Homo sapiens: one gene and its partners. The protein of the gene in region 1 interacts with the protein of each later gene in a pairwise test. Each region holds a gene or a part of one and is shown in the gene's direction. Other genes may lie near its edges. The genes, in order: CYP4F2, ZDHHC15, TLCD4 and TMEM82.

Region 1 (3,729 bases):
CAGAGGGAGATGGATCACAGCCCAGGGAAGAACAAGGTCTCTGCTGGGGCAGGCTGGAAGGCTTCCTAGAGGAGGAGTTACTGGAGCTGTGTCTGGAACAATGAGTAGGAATGTTTGAAAGGAGAGTGCAGGGTGAGGCAATTGGACATCGTTAGTATTCAAGGCCCCTTGCCAGGCCTAGCATCACCTTGCCTGTCCCAAAGCCTAGAACAATGAGGAGGACTTGTGGCTGGTGGGGGATCTGGGCTGCTACTTCCATGATGTCCACCTCTGGTGGGTCAATTCCCTTTACCCCATCCTATAGCTTGTCTGCCCTAAGTTCGTTGCTCTCCTGCTGCAGGTCCCGGGGATCTCCAAGAGGAGACTCCACCCCAGCTTGGGTCCCTTTCCTTGACCCCTGTGCTTCCCATCGTTGGACGGGCGAGGCTGAGCAGGGGGAATGGGCAGCATCCTACAGAGACCATGGCTCTGACCTCAAAATGCTGAGTGACTCTGGGCTGGTACCCAGCTGTCTCTGGTTATTGAAGTCTCTTTCAGTTGTGAGTGGTGGAAACCCAACCTGGTGTGGTCTAAGCAAAGAAAGATAATCTATTGACTTTAAAGTCCAGGGAGGGTGGCCTTCAGGCATGGCTGGATCCAGGTCTCACACAAGGTCACTGGAAATCTGTCTTTCTCTCTTGGCTTTAGCTTTCTCCATGTCGCTTTTCCTATCAAGGTGGCCTTTTCCTCATGATGTCAACGATGAGTCCCAGAAGCTCAGTTCTTATGGGAAAGGCCACCTTTCCCCTAGAGTTCCCAGAAATGGCCCATGGTTTACTTCTCCTGGCCTGGATCACAGGACCAATTTTTCACCCAATCCCTGTGTCTCTGATTGCCCAGTCTTGGTAGGCCTGGGTCTTCCAGAGCTACTGTTTTGGGGGCACAAAGAAGTTTGTTGGTTAAGGATTCAGGCCATGGGTGCAGACAGACCTAGTCTTAGGCCTCAGGCTTGCCGTGGTCTGGGACTGTGGGCAAGTGACTTTATTGTTCAGAGCCTCAGGCTCTTCATCTGGAAAATGGGATGAATGAGAGCCCAGGGAACATGGTGTGTGGATCCACATGGGGAAAGACCTTTTCTGTCTGTGTAACTGAAGGACTGGAGAGTCCTGCATGGAGGATGTGAGGAGGCAGGGGGTGCTCAGCACTGACAGGAGGATGAGATGCTGCTTGAAATTCTCAGGGAGAGGGCTTCGACCTCTTCCCTGCAGATCCTTCTCTCTCACAGCCTAGGAGAGCATGAATTGGGTCCTGTGTGTTTTTCTCCAGATTCACAGCTCAGAAGAAGGTCTCCTATACACACAAAGCCTGGCGTGCACCTTTGGGGATATGGGCTGCTGGTGGGTGGGGCCCTGGCAGGCAGTCATCCACATCTTTCTCCCCACGTGCATCAAGCCTGTGCTCTTTGCTCCAGGTAGACATCGCACTGGCCAAGCTTTGCCCACAGCTGGGGTTGCTGTGCTGCCTCCAGCTGAACACGTGACCGATGTGCAGACAGGAGGGGCTGTGGTGGAGATGCCATTGCCTCCATCGCCCCTGGACTTCCACCTGTCTAACCTCTGTTGCTGTTTGCTCATGTCTGGGGCGTGTCTCTACAATGGCTGTTATATGGCCAGGTCTGCCTTGTATATTTACACCTGGGTCCTGGTTACACCTGAAATATGTTATACCTGGTTACATCTGGTATATAATTCCAACTGGGGTCATGTAGAGCTGGTCAAGTTTGGGGCTTATCTGTGGCCAAGGACATTTGGGGCATGTGAGGGCCTGTTTGGTTCTTGTCTCAGGTGCTGTTTGACACTGCCGTTTTCTCCTGGTGGTCCAAACATCTGGGCGTTGTGTGAGGTCTGGGGGTTGTGTGAGGTCTGGGACCCAGGGTCCCTATGTGAACTGTCTGAGACATTATTTGAGTCTTGTCTGAGGCATGTGTTATAGTATATTTGGGTCATGCCTGAGGAACAGTCTGGTTCACATGTTGGCTATGTCTGTGACATTAAAGGTACCATATTTATATTCAACCCAGAGCCTGTATGTGGAACACGCTTTTAAGATCATGTTAGACCATCTCATGTGCATGTTAGAGCACACCATCTCATGTTAGGAATTGTCATGTATTTTGTGGCCATGTCAGGACATGTGAACACATGTCAGGGTCATGTCTCATGTCCAGGTCCATGTCAGAAGATGCCATATCAGAAGATGTCAGAGAGTGCTGGGACAGACAGGGTGTCCTAGGTCCTTGTGAAGCATTCTGTAGAATGCTGAGCTGTGCTCAGGGGTTGCGGAACATGTTGGATCGTGTAGGAGGCATGTCAAGGCATGCTGGAACCCTGACATAGCTCCTACACGCCATGTTAGGCAGTGTCATTGCTGTACTGTGCTGCTGTAGCCTGGTCTGGTCTTCCCTCCCCTCCCCATCCTCCCTTCTTCCTCTGCCCTTGGCCCTCTTCCTGCTATGTGGGGCTCAGAGTGGGAGAAGTGCAAACCTCTTGCTGGGAGCCTCCACCCACCCCCAAAGTCCCTCTTTCACCTGCCTCCATGGCCCCTGATTGTCCTCATTTATGTCAGCTGCCATTGCACCAAAGGACAAGTTCTTCTACAGCTTCCTGGAGCCCTGGCTGGGTGAGTATCTGCAGGTGAACAGGGTTGGGAAAAACGTTGGGGGGCCAGGGGAGGGAGAGGTCCTTGCCCATGGCCCTTGGCTGCCCTGCTAGGGGATGGGCTCCTGCTGAGTGCTGGTGACAAGTGGAGCCGCCACCGTCGGATGCTGACGCCTGCCTTCCATTTCAACATCCTGAAGCCCTATATGAAGATTTTCAATGAGAGTGTGAACATCATGCACGTGAGTTATTTGAAGCCAAGGTCCCACTTGCAGCCTTGGGGTGAAAGGACAACAGAGAGATCTAGTCTGGAGTTTTGGCTCTGCTGGGTGCCATTGGGCCATTGCTCTTTCTCACTGAGCCTTGGTTTCCTCATCTGTAAAATGGGGATAATAATCCCTACTTAAAAGATGGTCAGAGTAATGTAATGGAGTCACGTCTCTGGTGCATAGCAGGTGCCCAGAAGGTGTCTGTTTCTATGTTTCCATCACCAAAGCCCTGTAAACACAAGAGGGTCATGACAACAATTTCATAGTAGCTGTTGCTGATAAGAAACCACCTGAAAACTCATTGGTTTAAACCAATAAGTGTTTATGTTTGCTAATAAGTCTTTGGGACAGTTGGCAGGTTCTTCTGTATATGGAAGGGACCACTCATGGTACATGAGCAGCTGGGGGTCAGGTAGGCAGCCTTGCAGGTGTTGACTGAATTCTGCCACATGTTTGGGTTTTGGCTGGGACATGTTTGGGTTCTCTCACGTGTCTAGGTTTGGCCTCATCTGGGACCCCTGGATGTTCCTCCCTATGATTGTCTCCTTCCAGAAGGCGCGCCATGGTTCACAATGCAGGCAGGGTTCCAAGGAGTAAGACAAGGCTTAGCTTCGTTAGTTATTAACTCATCATTTTCACCACATTGTATTTTGACATCGAAAGCCAAAAGTCCAACACAGAATCAAAGGCAGGGGGATAAAATAGGCTCTGTCTATTAATGGGAGTTGCTGAAAAATCACATTGCAAAGGGTGTGGATATGGCAGGAAGGGAAGAATTGTGGCAAAGGTTTTGCGAAGTATCTAGGATTTTTTTTTTAACTTGC
Region 2 (3,729 bases), on another chromosome or scaffold:
TCGTGGGCACAAACTAGAAAATTTAGAGGAGATGGATAAATTCCTGCAAATATACAACTGTGCTAGATTAAACCAGAAAGAAATGGGAACTCTGAAGAGGCCAGTAACAAGCAGCAAGATTAAAATGGTAATAAAAAAATTGCCAACAAAAAAAAGTCCAGGGCCAGATGGATTCACAGCTGAATTCTATCAGACACTCAAAGAAGAATTGGTACCACTCCTACTGAAACTATTCCAAAAGACAGAGAAAGAGGGAATCCTTCCTAAATTATTCTATGAAGCCAATATTACCCTAGTACCAAAAACCAGGAAAGAACATAGCTAAAAAAGAAAACTGCAGACCAATATTCCTAATGAATATAGATGCAGAAATCCTCAACAAAATACTAGCTAACCGAATTCAACAGCATATCAAAAACATAATCCATCATCATCATGTGGGTTTCATACCATGGATTCAGGGTTGGTTTAACACAGGCAAGTCAATAAATGTGGTACACCACATAAACATAAGTAAAAACAAAAATCACATGATCATCTCAATAGACGCAGAAAAAACATTTGACAAAATCCAGCATCCCTTTATGATTAAAATCCTCAGCAAAATCAGCATAGAAGGGAAATATGTTAAGGTAATAAAAGCCATCTATGACAAACCCACAGCTAAATTATACTGAATGGGGAAAAGTTGAAAGCATTGTTCCTGAGAACTGGAACAAGACAAAGATGCCCACTTTCACCATTTCTATTCAACATAGTACTGGAAGTCCTAGCCAGAGTGATCAGACAAGAGAAAGAAATAAAGGACATCCAAATGAATAAAGAGGAAGTCAAACAGTCACTGTTTGCTGATAATGTGATCATATACCTAGAAAACCCTAAAGACTCTTCCAAAAAGCTCCTGGATCTGATCAATGAATTCAATAAAATTTCACGTTACAAAATTAATGTATACAAATCAGTAGCAGTGCTATACACCAACAGCAACCAAGCTGAGAATCAAATCAAGAACTCCACTACTTTTACTATAGCAGAAAACAAACAAACAAACAAAACTTAGAAATATACCTAACCAAGGACATGAAAGACCTCTACAAGGAAAACTACAAAACACTGCTGAAAGAAATCATAGACAACGTAAACAAATGGAAACACATCCCATGCCCATGAATGGGTATAATCAATATTGTGAAAATGACCATGCTGCCAAAAGCAATATACACATTCAATGCAATTCCCATCAAACTACCACCATCATTCTTCACAGCACTGGAAAAAACAATTCTAAAATTCATGTGAAACTATAAAAGCCCGCATTAGGCAAAGCAAGAGTAAGCAAAAAGAACAAATCTGGAGGCATCACGTTACCTGACTTCAAACTATACTACAAGGCTATAGTCACCAAAGCAGCATGGTACAGGTATAAAAATAGGTGCATAGACCAATGGAACAGAATAGGAACCCAGAAATAAGCCCAAATACTTACAGCTAACTGATTTTTGACAAAGCAAACAAAAACATAAAGTGGGGAAAGACACCCTATTCAACAAATGATGCTGGGATAATTGGCAAGCCACATGTAGAAGAATGAAACTGGATCCTCATTTATCACCATATACAAAAATCTACTGAACTCAAGTTGGATCGAAGACTTAAATCTAAGACCTGAAACCATAAACATTATAGAAGATAACATTGGAAAAACTTTGCTAGATATTGGCCTATGCAAATAGTTCATGACCAAGAACCCAAAGGCAAATGCAACACCAACAAAGATAAATTGATGGGACTTAATTAAACTAGAAAGCTTCTGCATAGGAAAAGAAATAGCAGAGTAAACAGACAACCCAAAGGCTGGGAAAAATTATCCACAAACTATGCATGTGACAAGGGACGAATATCCAGAATCTACAAGGAACCCAAACAAATCAGCAAGAAAAAAACAATCCCATCAAAAAGTGGGCTAAGGACCTGAATAAACAATTCTCAAAAGAAGATATACAAATGGCCAACAAACGTGAAAATATTCTCAACATCACTAATTTTCAGGGAAATGCAAGTCAAAACCACAATGCAATACCACCTTATTCCTGCAAGAATGGCCGTAATTTAAAAATCAAAGCATAATAAACGTTGGCTTTGATGTGGTGAAAAGGGAACGCTTTTACACTCCTGGTGGGAATATGAACTACTACAACCACTATGGAAAACAGTATGGAGATTCCTTAAAGAACTAACGTAGATCTGTCATTTGATCCAACAATCCCACTCCTGGGTATTTACCCAGAGCAAAAGAAGTCATTATATGAAAAAGACACTTGCACAGGCATGTTCATCGCAACACAGTTTGCAATTACAAATTACAAAAATATGGAACCAGCCCAAACCAATGAGTGAATAAAGAAAATGTTACATATATATATATATATATATACACACACACACACACACACACACACACACACACACACACACTACTCAGCCATAAAAAATATACACTACTTGGCCATAAAAAGGGAACAAAATCATGGCATTCTCAGCAACCTGGATGGAGTTGGAGACCATTATTCTATGTAAAGTAACTCAGGAGTGGAAAACCTAATATCATATGTTTTCAATTATGAGTGAGAGCTAAGCTATGAGGATGCAAAAGCCTAAGAATGATATAGTGTACTCTGGGGACTCAGGGGGAAGGGTAGGGGGTGGCAAGGGTTAACAGACTACATGCTGGGTACAGTGTTTACGGCTTAGATGGTGGGTGCACCAAAATCTCAGAAATCACCACTAAACAACTTATCCATGTAACCAAACACCACCTGTTCCCCAAAAACCTATTGAAATAAAAAAAGTAAAATTAACCATCATACCAAAAGGAGCAGAGGGATGATCATCCCAGGCAAAAGGAACTGCAAGCACAAAAAGCCTTGAAACAGGAGCAAGCTTGATTACAAGAGCAGATAGGCAGCCAGTTTCACTGGAACATAGTATGAGGAGAGTTTTACAAGATTCATTTGAAGAGATAGGCAGAGGCTAGATGATACAGGCCATGGTAAGGAGTTTGGATTTTATTCTGAAGGTGTTGGAAATCCATTGAGAGTTTTAAGTGGAGAGTGATATGATCTGATTTACATTTTTTTTTTTATTTTTAGAAACAGGATCTTGCTCTATCGCCCAGGCTGGAGTACAGTGGTTCATTCATGGATCACAGCAGCCTCGAACTCCTGGGCTCTAGCAATCCTCCCGCCTCGGCCTCCCAAGTAGCTGAGGCCACAAGTGCACACCACCATGCCTGGCTAATTTATTTTATTTTATTTTTTTATAGAGACAGGGTCTCACTATGTTGTCCAGGCTGGTCTGGAACTCTTGGTCTCAAGCGATAGTTGTGCCTCAGTCTCTCAAAGTGCTGGGATTATAGACATGAGCCACTACACCAGATCTGATGTAGATTTTGACAGATCACCCAGCTACTCTGTATAGTAGGTCTTTTGAGGGGCAAGTATGAAAGCAGAGTGATAAATTACACAGATATTGCAGTCAACTAGCTAAGAGACAATGTGGCTTAAATGAGGATAGGAGCATTGACAGTATATTTTAAAATATGCAAAAGGACCCAGATATGCATGTTCTTCTCCCTTCCTCTTTGACTCAATTATACCCACGACTTTAGTCACTCACATACTTCCATTAGTGGAAGTAAACACAAATCTCTGCTGAATTAACTGTCTATTG
Region 3 (3,729 bases), on another chromosome or scaffold:
TTTTTGGGCGAGGGTGGGATGATACATTTTTTAATGGTGAATTGTTTGAGTGCTTTTAAATACAGTAGTTAAATGAACAATTCATAAAATGGATAAGGTATGATATGTTTTATGACACCTTTTAACATTCATGAAATAAATGCTTTGTATACATTGAATTTTAACAAACTAAATGAGCAGCCCGTGCCCACCTTCTGCTCTAGGATCAGCAGAGAGCATACGAAAGTCTTCAGGGGAAACCTCCTCACATTTAAGATTAGATTCTCCATTCTCTTCTGATTACTGATTATATTTTTTTTCCAATTTTGTGTCCATCTGGCCTCCAGATACCTATTTGCTTTAATCTTAGAAAAGCATTATTCTCCTTACATCCCACTTAGCAAATTATGGTAATGCTTAATTTATGTACAAAACTTTTATGTATTGTTTGGTTAATATTAAACCTAGGCTAAAAGACCACAAATTAAAATTTTAATACCCAATAAACATATGTTGAATTAAAAAGAAGTAAAAGAGCAGTAAAGTTAATGGAGTCTCATAGAGAAGAATTGTAATATCAATATTTTTACCAAGTACACACACACACACACACACACACACACACACACACACACAAAGAATGAGGAAAGAATTCATTATAGACATATGAATTCTGATGGAAGGGGCCCTGTGGGAGATTGATTCTTATTACGATATCCTGGTTGGAAGGGAATGAAGTGGGGTTATTGCTAGTGCAGTCAATGACTTGGCTTTTCTCTGGTGAATTGATTTCAGTAGGTGACTTTATTTCTTTGCATTAGGCAGCTGGAAATGTGTATTGATTTATTTCTTTTTCATTTGAGAATCAGCTTTATCAAAGATGGAGCCATAGAAATGCTGTATTTGCTGGATATGAGCAAATGCCTTAGTGCCTTTTTTTTTTTTTTTTTGCTCTGAATGTTCCTAAGATTTTTAGGAGCCAAATAAAGTTCAGCTCAATGAAATAGAAAACACACTTTGAGTGTGCATATATGCATAGTACTATTCTTTCTGCTAACTCGATTGTTAAGACCTGAAGCTCTTTTATAAAAATCTTTTTTTTTTTTTTTTTTTTTAATAAGGGATACAAAGCCCTGCAGGCCTTTTGCTCCAAGAATGTGTGTGATTGAAGAGCATGTTTTAAAAGTTAAATTCTCATTTGTGCAGTGACGGTGTTAGCGGTGGAGGGTGTTCAGGTTCTTGGCATTTTGAACAAAGAATTAGACAAAATGCACAAAGCAAGGAAGGAATGAAGCAATGAAAGTAGCGATTTATTAAAAATGAAAGTACACTCCACAGGGTGGGAGTTGGTCCTACCATAGGGGCTCAAGAGCCCGGTTACAGAATTTTCTAGGGCTTAAATACCTGCTACAGGTTTCCCATTGGCCACTTGTTGTACACCCCATGCAAATGAAGTAGTGGCCCACAATCTAGGCCGGTTGTGGTGCCTCACGCCTGTAATCCCAGCACTTTAGGAGGCTGAGGTGGGCAGATCACGAGGTCAGGAGTTCAAGACCAGTCTGGCCAACATGGTGAAACCCCGTCTCTACTAAAAATACAAAAATTAACCGAGTGTGGTGGTGCGTGCCTGTAATCCCAGCCGCTCGCGATGATGAGGCAGCAGAATTGCTTGAATCCGGGAGGCGGAGGTTGCAGTGAGCTGAGATCTATCGCACCACTGCACTCTAGCCTGGGGGACACAGCAAGACTCCATCTGGAGGCGGGGTTGGGGGCGTGGCGGAGGGGAGGGGAAGTTACACTTCTGTGCAAAGGAAGACTTGGCTGGCAGTCAGTCAGATTGGTTGGGGAAAGCAACCAATCAGAGGCTGAAATGAAGTTATAAAGTTATACTCCTATGTAAACGTCTGATTGGTTGCGGAAAGCAACCAATCAGAGGTACTTTCAGTTTTCCATTTGCCACTCAGAAAAGTGAGGGAGGGGTTTTCAAAGCGAGTAACCTCCAGTTATTTTGTTAGTTAGGTGTGTAAAGTTGGGCTTTTCTGTTTGATTTAGTTCTAGGAAGTCAGTATGAATCGGCCTTAGGTTCCCTGCCTCCAGACCCTATTGTCTTGCCTCAACAGTGCAATGGCTCTTTGCTAAGACTGTGTTCTTCTTAAGATTTTAATTTTGTTTTAAATGTTGTTTGTCCTGCTCCAAAATTAGTTTTTTAATTATGGAATTATTTTTTGTTTTGTTATTACAGGCAGTGTTAGTTCTATGGTTTTTGGCTTGATTGTTTCTTAGAAATTATGTAACCAACTCTTTCATATCATAGATGAGAAATTGAGGGATAAAGAAATCGATTTGTCATAAATTTAATTGAAATATTATTAGAAGAATAGTTTTTACTTATAGTACTTGAAATTCTCTGTTAATATTAAGACTTAGATAATTTTGAATATCATGATGTTAAAATTATAAATGACACCTCTAATATTGAGATCTTTAAGATAAAACAGACATAAGATACATGACAAATAGATGGTAAAGGTGAAGAAATATACAAAAGGTCAAAAATTCTTATAGTTTATATTCTTAACATTTGTTCTAAATTTTAAAAATTACTAAAATTACAAGACATATTTCTTAAAATAAAAAAATTACTCTAGGTTTATTATGAGACAACAATTTATAGCTGTCATTTATCTTAACAGGTTGAAGAAATATGGAGATCAACACAAAACTGCTCATCAGTGTTACCTGTATCAGCTTTTTCACCTTTCAGCTTCTTTTCTACTTTGTAAGTTACTGGTTTTCAGCAAAAGTTTCTCCAGGTTTCAATAGTCTCAGCTTCAAAAAGAAGATTGAATGGAACTCAAGGTAAAGCATATGAAAATGTAATTGATGACAAGAAACTAGTTTATGAGATAAAATTATTTAAAATATTTCAAAAAAGTATTTCATTTAGGATCTAATGTAAGGCCAAATTTTTATTTGATCTTAGAAATAAAAGGAAAAACAAGTAGATGATCTCATGCAAAAAAAAGTTTAAGAATTCATATATTGAAAGATGTTAGGAGAAATTTACTTAAGTTTCTGAGGAAGTGTGTGAAGATGAAGTAGACTCCAGCTGACTGTGGATGAATACTAGTACTTTCGTGTTCTTCTTTGAAATATTTATAACAAACATATTCTTTGGAAACAAAGATGGAAGAAAAAATTAGTTGTACTTTTGAGTAGCTTATACCATACAGCATTGGCCAACTTAGCCAGACCTGGGGCAGTTAGACTCTACACATCAGGGAACAAAGTGTACAGTCAGTGCATATGAATCTTTTAATGAACTTTGCATTATAATTTAGAGCCCTCCAGCATTTATTATTTTGTTATATAATTTTAAAGTAAAAATTTCTTTTTAGTTTTTTTTTTTTAAACAGAAAAGTAAATGGAGAAAGAATTAGACATCTATTGATATAGAAATCTGCTGGAGTTTTATTTTTTATTTTTATTTTATTTGTTTATTTATTTTTTTGAGACAGAGTCCCGTTCTGTCGCCCAGGCTGGAGTGCAGTGGTGAAATCTTGGCTCGCTGCAACCTCTGCCTCCCAGGTTCCAGTGATTCTCCTGCCTCAGCTTCCTGAGTAGCTGGGATTACAGGCATGCGCCACCATGCCAAGCTAATTTTTGTGTTTTTAGTAGAGACAGGGTTTCACTAGGTTGGCCAGGCTGGTCTTGAACTCCTGACCTCAGGTGATCCACCCACCTTGCCCT
Region 4 (4,316 bases), on another chromosome or scaffold:
ATTTGCACATATCCTGACAAGCCTGAAAGAAGCTCCGGGTGCCCATTGTTCAGTCCAGGTGCCCATTGTTCCCGGGACTGAGGCCCGGGAAAGGGAAGCGACGTGGCAGGGCCAGCAGCAGACCCTGGGCCTTTCTCTAGACTGAGCACCATTCCCCGTGGGTGTGCTCTCAGCGCCGCACCGACCTTCACACTGCAGAGATGGATGCCAACTCCCTGGCAGGGGCAGGACTGCTGCCGAGCAGCCCCACCTGCCCTCCCAGCCACACCCCAAGTCTGTAAGGGCCGCTCCCAGGAACACCTGCTACTGCACACTCCAAACCAATAAAGTTTTATATTTTGTTTACTTCAACGACCCTCCTCTGTGGTGAATCTCAGTCTCCCCCATCCCTGACCCCCACCTTCTGCTCCCTCTGCCCTTTCTGTTTGTGAAAGCAGGATGGGAGCCGTGGTCCACCTGTTCAGCTCCGCCCTGCTGGACCCAGGTGAGGCCTGCCACCTAGTGGACCCAGGGAGGAGCATCAGGAAGGGCGGCCCCGGCCTGTGGGAGGAGAAGGCTCAGGCAGGCTCGGGCTGCAGGAGATTCCACACCGAGTCAGAGCCGGAGGCTTTGGGAAGCTGGAACCAGACCTTACAAAAAGCAGGCAGAGCTGACCTCCTGGCTGTGGGGGAAGAGAGCCCCAGACCTCAGGCTGAGAGGGCACAGCTGATCTCTGGCTATGGGGGGATAGAGTCCCTACTCTCAGACCCTGGGCTGAAGGGTCAGAGCCCACACTTCAGGCTGCAAGAGGACAGGACCCACACCTAAGGCGGGGCAGGACAGATGGAGCCTGGGACTTCGAAGGGGCATTGGGTGGTTCAAGCCCTCAAGGAAGATTGCTATTTTTTTTTTTTTTTTTTTTTTTTAGACAGAGTGTTGCTCTGTTGCCCAGGCTGGAGTGCAATGGTGTGATCTCAGCTCACTGCAACCTCCGCCTCCTGGGTTCAAGCCATTCTCCTGCCTCAGCCTCCCGAGTAGCTGGGATTACAGGTGCCTGCCACCACGCCCGGCTAATTTTTTGTATTTTTAGTAGAGACAGAGTTTTACCATATTGGTCAGGCTGGTCTCGAACTCCTGACCTTGTGATCTGCCCACCTTGGCCTCCCAAAGTGCTGGGATTACAAGTGTAAGCCACTGCGCCTGTCCTCCCTCAAGGAAGATTTCAAGTAAAGTGGATGCCAGACTTTAGCAGGGACAGAGACCAGAGACCAGCCCAGAGACACCTGTCCCTTCACCCCACACTGCCCAAATGGGGAGCCCGGGCAGCAGCTGGCTCCAGGCACCCCGTGTGCCTGGAGCTGGGACCTTGCCCTTCTGGGCCTCGAAGGGTTAACACCCCTGGCTCTCCTCCCCTCCCCTCCCCTGGGCCTTTGACCCCTCCCAGCCTCTCTCCTTCCCTCCACCGACACCTTTGCCCAGTGACGTTGGTCTGTCCTTACGCAGACCTGGCCGGAGGCTGGGGCTCCTTCCGGGGCTGCCATGTTCTCTCTTCCATCCCTCCCCTCCTGGCTCCCCGGCCTCCCCTCCCTCGAGTGGGGCTCTAGCCTCCTTGACTCCCTCCTGCAAGGTGAGCACCTCGCCCCATTCCTGCCTTGGCCCCGCCCCCTTCCAGCTCTTTGCAGTGCAGGGTGGACCCCACCCACCTGGTCTCCCGACACCCCTGCCCCTTGGCCGCCCCCTCTGACCCTACCAATGAAGCCTGCCCTCCTAACACCCCTGCACGCTGCCTCGCTGCCTCCCTCCCGCCCCCTCAGGCCTGATCGGGGCCCTTGGAGTCTTGGTCCTGAACAGCCTCCTGAAAGTTTACTTCTTCGTGGGCTGTGCCAAGTGAGTGCCCACCTCATCCCCCCAGGGAATGTGGCTGGGGGCACGGGGACCCCCACCAGGGGTCGAAGGTGGCAGTTCTGCACCCCTGCCCACACCCATTCTGTCCCCAAAGTGACCCGCAGCGGCGACCCGAAAAGGAGCGGCTTCGGGCCCAGTGGGCCTCCCTGGAAACGGTGCACCTGGCAGGGCTGGCCCTGTTTCTGACGGTCGTGGGGTCCCGGGTGGCTGCCCTCGTGGTGCTCGAGTTCTCCCTCCGGGCCGTGTCCACGCTGCTGTCCCTGGGCAAGGTGAGGCCTCCGGGAAGGCAGTGGGTGGATCACTCCCCAGCCCAGGGCCCGGGCTCACCCCCGGAATGTGGGCAGCAGGGCCCAGGTCCAGCATCCCAGCCTCTTCGCCGTATTTTCCGTAAGACTGAGAACAGAGGCTGCAGGTTGCACCTTTGGGTTTGGTTGCGGAAGCGGCCACACTCACAGTGGACACAGTCCCAGTCCCAAGAAGACAAGAGCGACAGTTTCTGTAGATCCGGCCCCCCAAATGCCAGGCCCTGCGCCGAGTGCACCGTGTGCATCACGTAATCCTCACAGCCACAGGGGTAAAGGTTTGCTCTGATTCCCCATTTCACAGATGGGGAAACTAAGGCTCAGAGAGTATGTGGCTTGTCTATGGTCAACAGATAGAGTCAGGCTTTGGACCCAGGTCTCTGAGACTCTGAACCACCACCCTTCAGCTAACAGATGGGCCCCAAGTACTAAGACATGATTGAAGGCTGGGCGTGGTGGCTCACGCCTGTAATCCCAGCACTTTGGGAGGCCGAGGCAGGCGGATCACCTGAGGTTAGGATTTCGAGACCAGCCTGGCCAACATGGAGAAACCCCATCTCTAAAAACAAAAACAAACAAACAAAAAAATTAGCTGGGCATGGTGGCGGGTGCCTGTAATCCCAGCTTCTTGGGAGGCTGAGGCAGGAGAATTGCTTGAACCCAGGAGGCGGAGGTTGCAGTGAGCGGAGATCGAGCCACTGTACTCCAGCCTGGGTGACAGAGCAAGACTCTGTCTAAAAAAAAAAACAAAACAAAACCCATATGATTGAAATTAAGGTGAGAGAGATGATCCCCTAGGGCTTCATCTGAAGCCGATGTGGCCCCTTCGGGAACCATCCCCAAGGTCCCTTCAGGCTCCGGCTTCCTGTGGTGGGCAGCACCTGTGGTGAGGCAGCCCCCACATCTCGGCCCCTCTTCGGCACTCCCCGCAGGGCTCCCAGGGTGCCGCCGAGAGGCTGCAGCTCTACCTGCTGTGCCAGTACTCGCTGGGCTGCGGGCTGACCTGTGGCCTGAGCTTCCTGCAGGAGGGCGCCCCTCACCGCACGCTGAACCTGCTGCTGAGCCTCGGGCTGGCCACGCTGCTGGGCCTGGGTGCCCGGCGCCTCCACCGCCACGTCTGCCGCCTCTACGAGCTGCACAGCAGCCAGCGCTACTGTGGGGTGTGCCTGGGCCTGCTGGCCCATGCACATGGCCTCCCCCAGCTGCTGGGCCGTGCCCTGGCCATAGCCTTTGCCGTGGGTGACCTGGCAGCTGTGGCCCTCATCAACCAGGACTTCCTGACCACCTCGGAGGCCATGCGGTTCTGGACACCGCTCACCATCTGCTACACGCTGCTGGTCATCTACATGCAGGGTGAGCGCTGCGGGGCCTGCTCCATTCAATCCACGCACATCCCTCTGTCTGGGTCAGGCTCCGGGGAGGCCGAGAGCCATCAGCCCTCACTCTTGCCATCCCAGAGAGCCTGGTCAGGACAGAGGCTGTGTGGCGGGGGCAGTGCAGAGAAGCAGCATGTAGTGGGCACCCTGAGGTTGTAGTCTTTAGATTGGGCTTTGAAGGATGAGCAGGAGATCCCTAAGAGAAGCGAGGCAGGGAACAGAATCTTGGACAGAGAGAACCGCATGTGCCAATGCCCAGAGGGGAGAGAGGGCATGGCCGTGCCAAACAAGCCACAGGAGTCCAGTGTGGCTGTCACCCCAAGGGCACAGGGAAGGGGTGAGGCTGGCCAGGTTCGAAGGGGCCTGTTGGAGAGCCCTCAACAGCCAGGCGGGGAAGTCTGATGAGAGGCTGCTGTCCAAGTTTGTTTATGTTTTTGTTTTGTTTTGCTTTTCTGTTTTTTGAGATAGGGTTTTGCTTGGTGGCCCAGGCTAGAGTGCAGTGGCACGATCATGGCTCACCGCAGCCTTGACCTTCTGGGCTCAAGTGATTCTCCCACCTCAGCCTCCCAAGTTGTGGGGATTACAGGCACACACCACTATGCCAGGCTAATTTTATTTTTTGTAGAGAAGGGGTCAGCCGGGCACAGTGGCTCATGCCTATAATCCCTGCACTTTGAGAAGCTGAGACAGGCAAATCACGTGAGGTCAGGAGTTCAAGACCAGCCTAACCAACATGGTAAAACCCTGCCTGTAC

What was found.
Region 2: the proteins of CYP4F2 (region 1) and ZDHHC15 interact in binary tests that used the Homo sapiens proteins (3 or more experiments, as listed by UniProt).
Region 3: the proteins of CYP4F2 (region 1) and TLCD4 interact in binary tests that used the Homo sapiens proteins (3 or more experiments, as listed by UniProt).
Region 4: the proteins of CYP4F2 (region 1) and TMEM82 interact in a two-hybrid assay, tested with the Homo sapiens proteins (one large-scale study listed by BioGRID).

Annotation. Positions count from the first base shown.
Region 1 is NC_000019.10:15,891,458-15,895,186, reverse strand, and holds part of CYP4F2 (cytochrome P450 4F2 precursor), read left to right. Parts: intron 1-2,604; coding exon 2,605-2,658; intron 2,659-2,750; coding exon 2,751-2,878; intron 2,879-3,729. UniProt on the Homo sapiens protein: A cytochrome P450 monooxygenase involved in the metabolism of various endogenous substrates, including fatty acids, eicosanoids and vitamins.
Region 2 is NC_000023.11:75,432,403-75,436,131, reverse strand, and holds part of ZDHHC15 (palmitoyltransferase ZDHHC15), read left to right. Parts: intron 1-3,729. UniProt on the Homo sapiens protein: Palmitoyltransferase that catalyzes the addition of palmitate onto various protein substrates.
Region 3 is NC_000001.11:95,141,219-95,144,947, forward strand, and holds part of TLCD4 (TLC domain-containing protein 4), read left to right. Parts: intron 1-2,672; 5' UTR 2,673-2,683; coding exon 2,684-2,838; intron 2,839-3,729. Other genes in the region: TLCD4-RWDD3 (TMEM56-RWDD3 protein), read left to right, coding at 2,684-2,838.
Region 4 is NC_000001.11:15,741,042-15,745,357, forward strand, and holds the start of TMEM82 (transmembrane protein 82), read left to right. Parts: upstream 1-1,457; 5' UTR 1,458-1,518; coding exon 1,519-1,606; intron 1,607-1,793; coding exon 1,794-1,866; intron 1,867-1,978; coding exon 1,979-2,153; intron 2,154-3,118; coding exon 3,119-3,539; intron 3,540-4,316.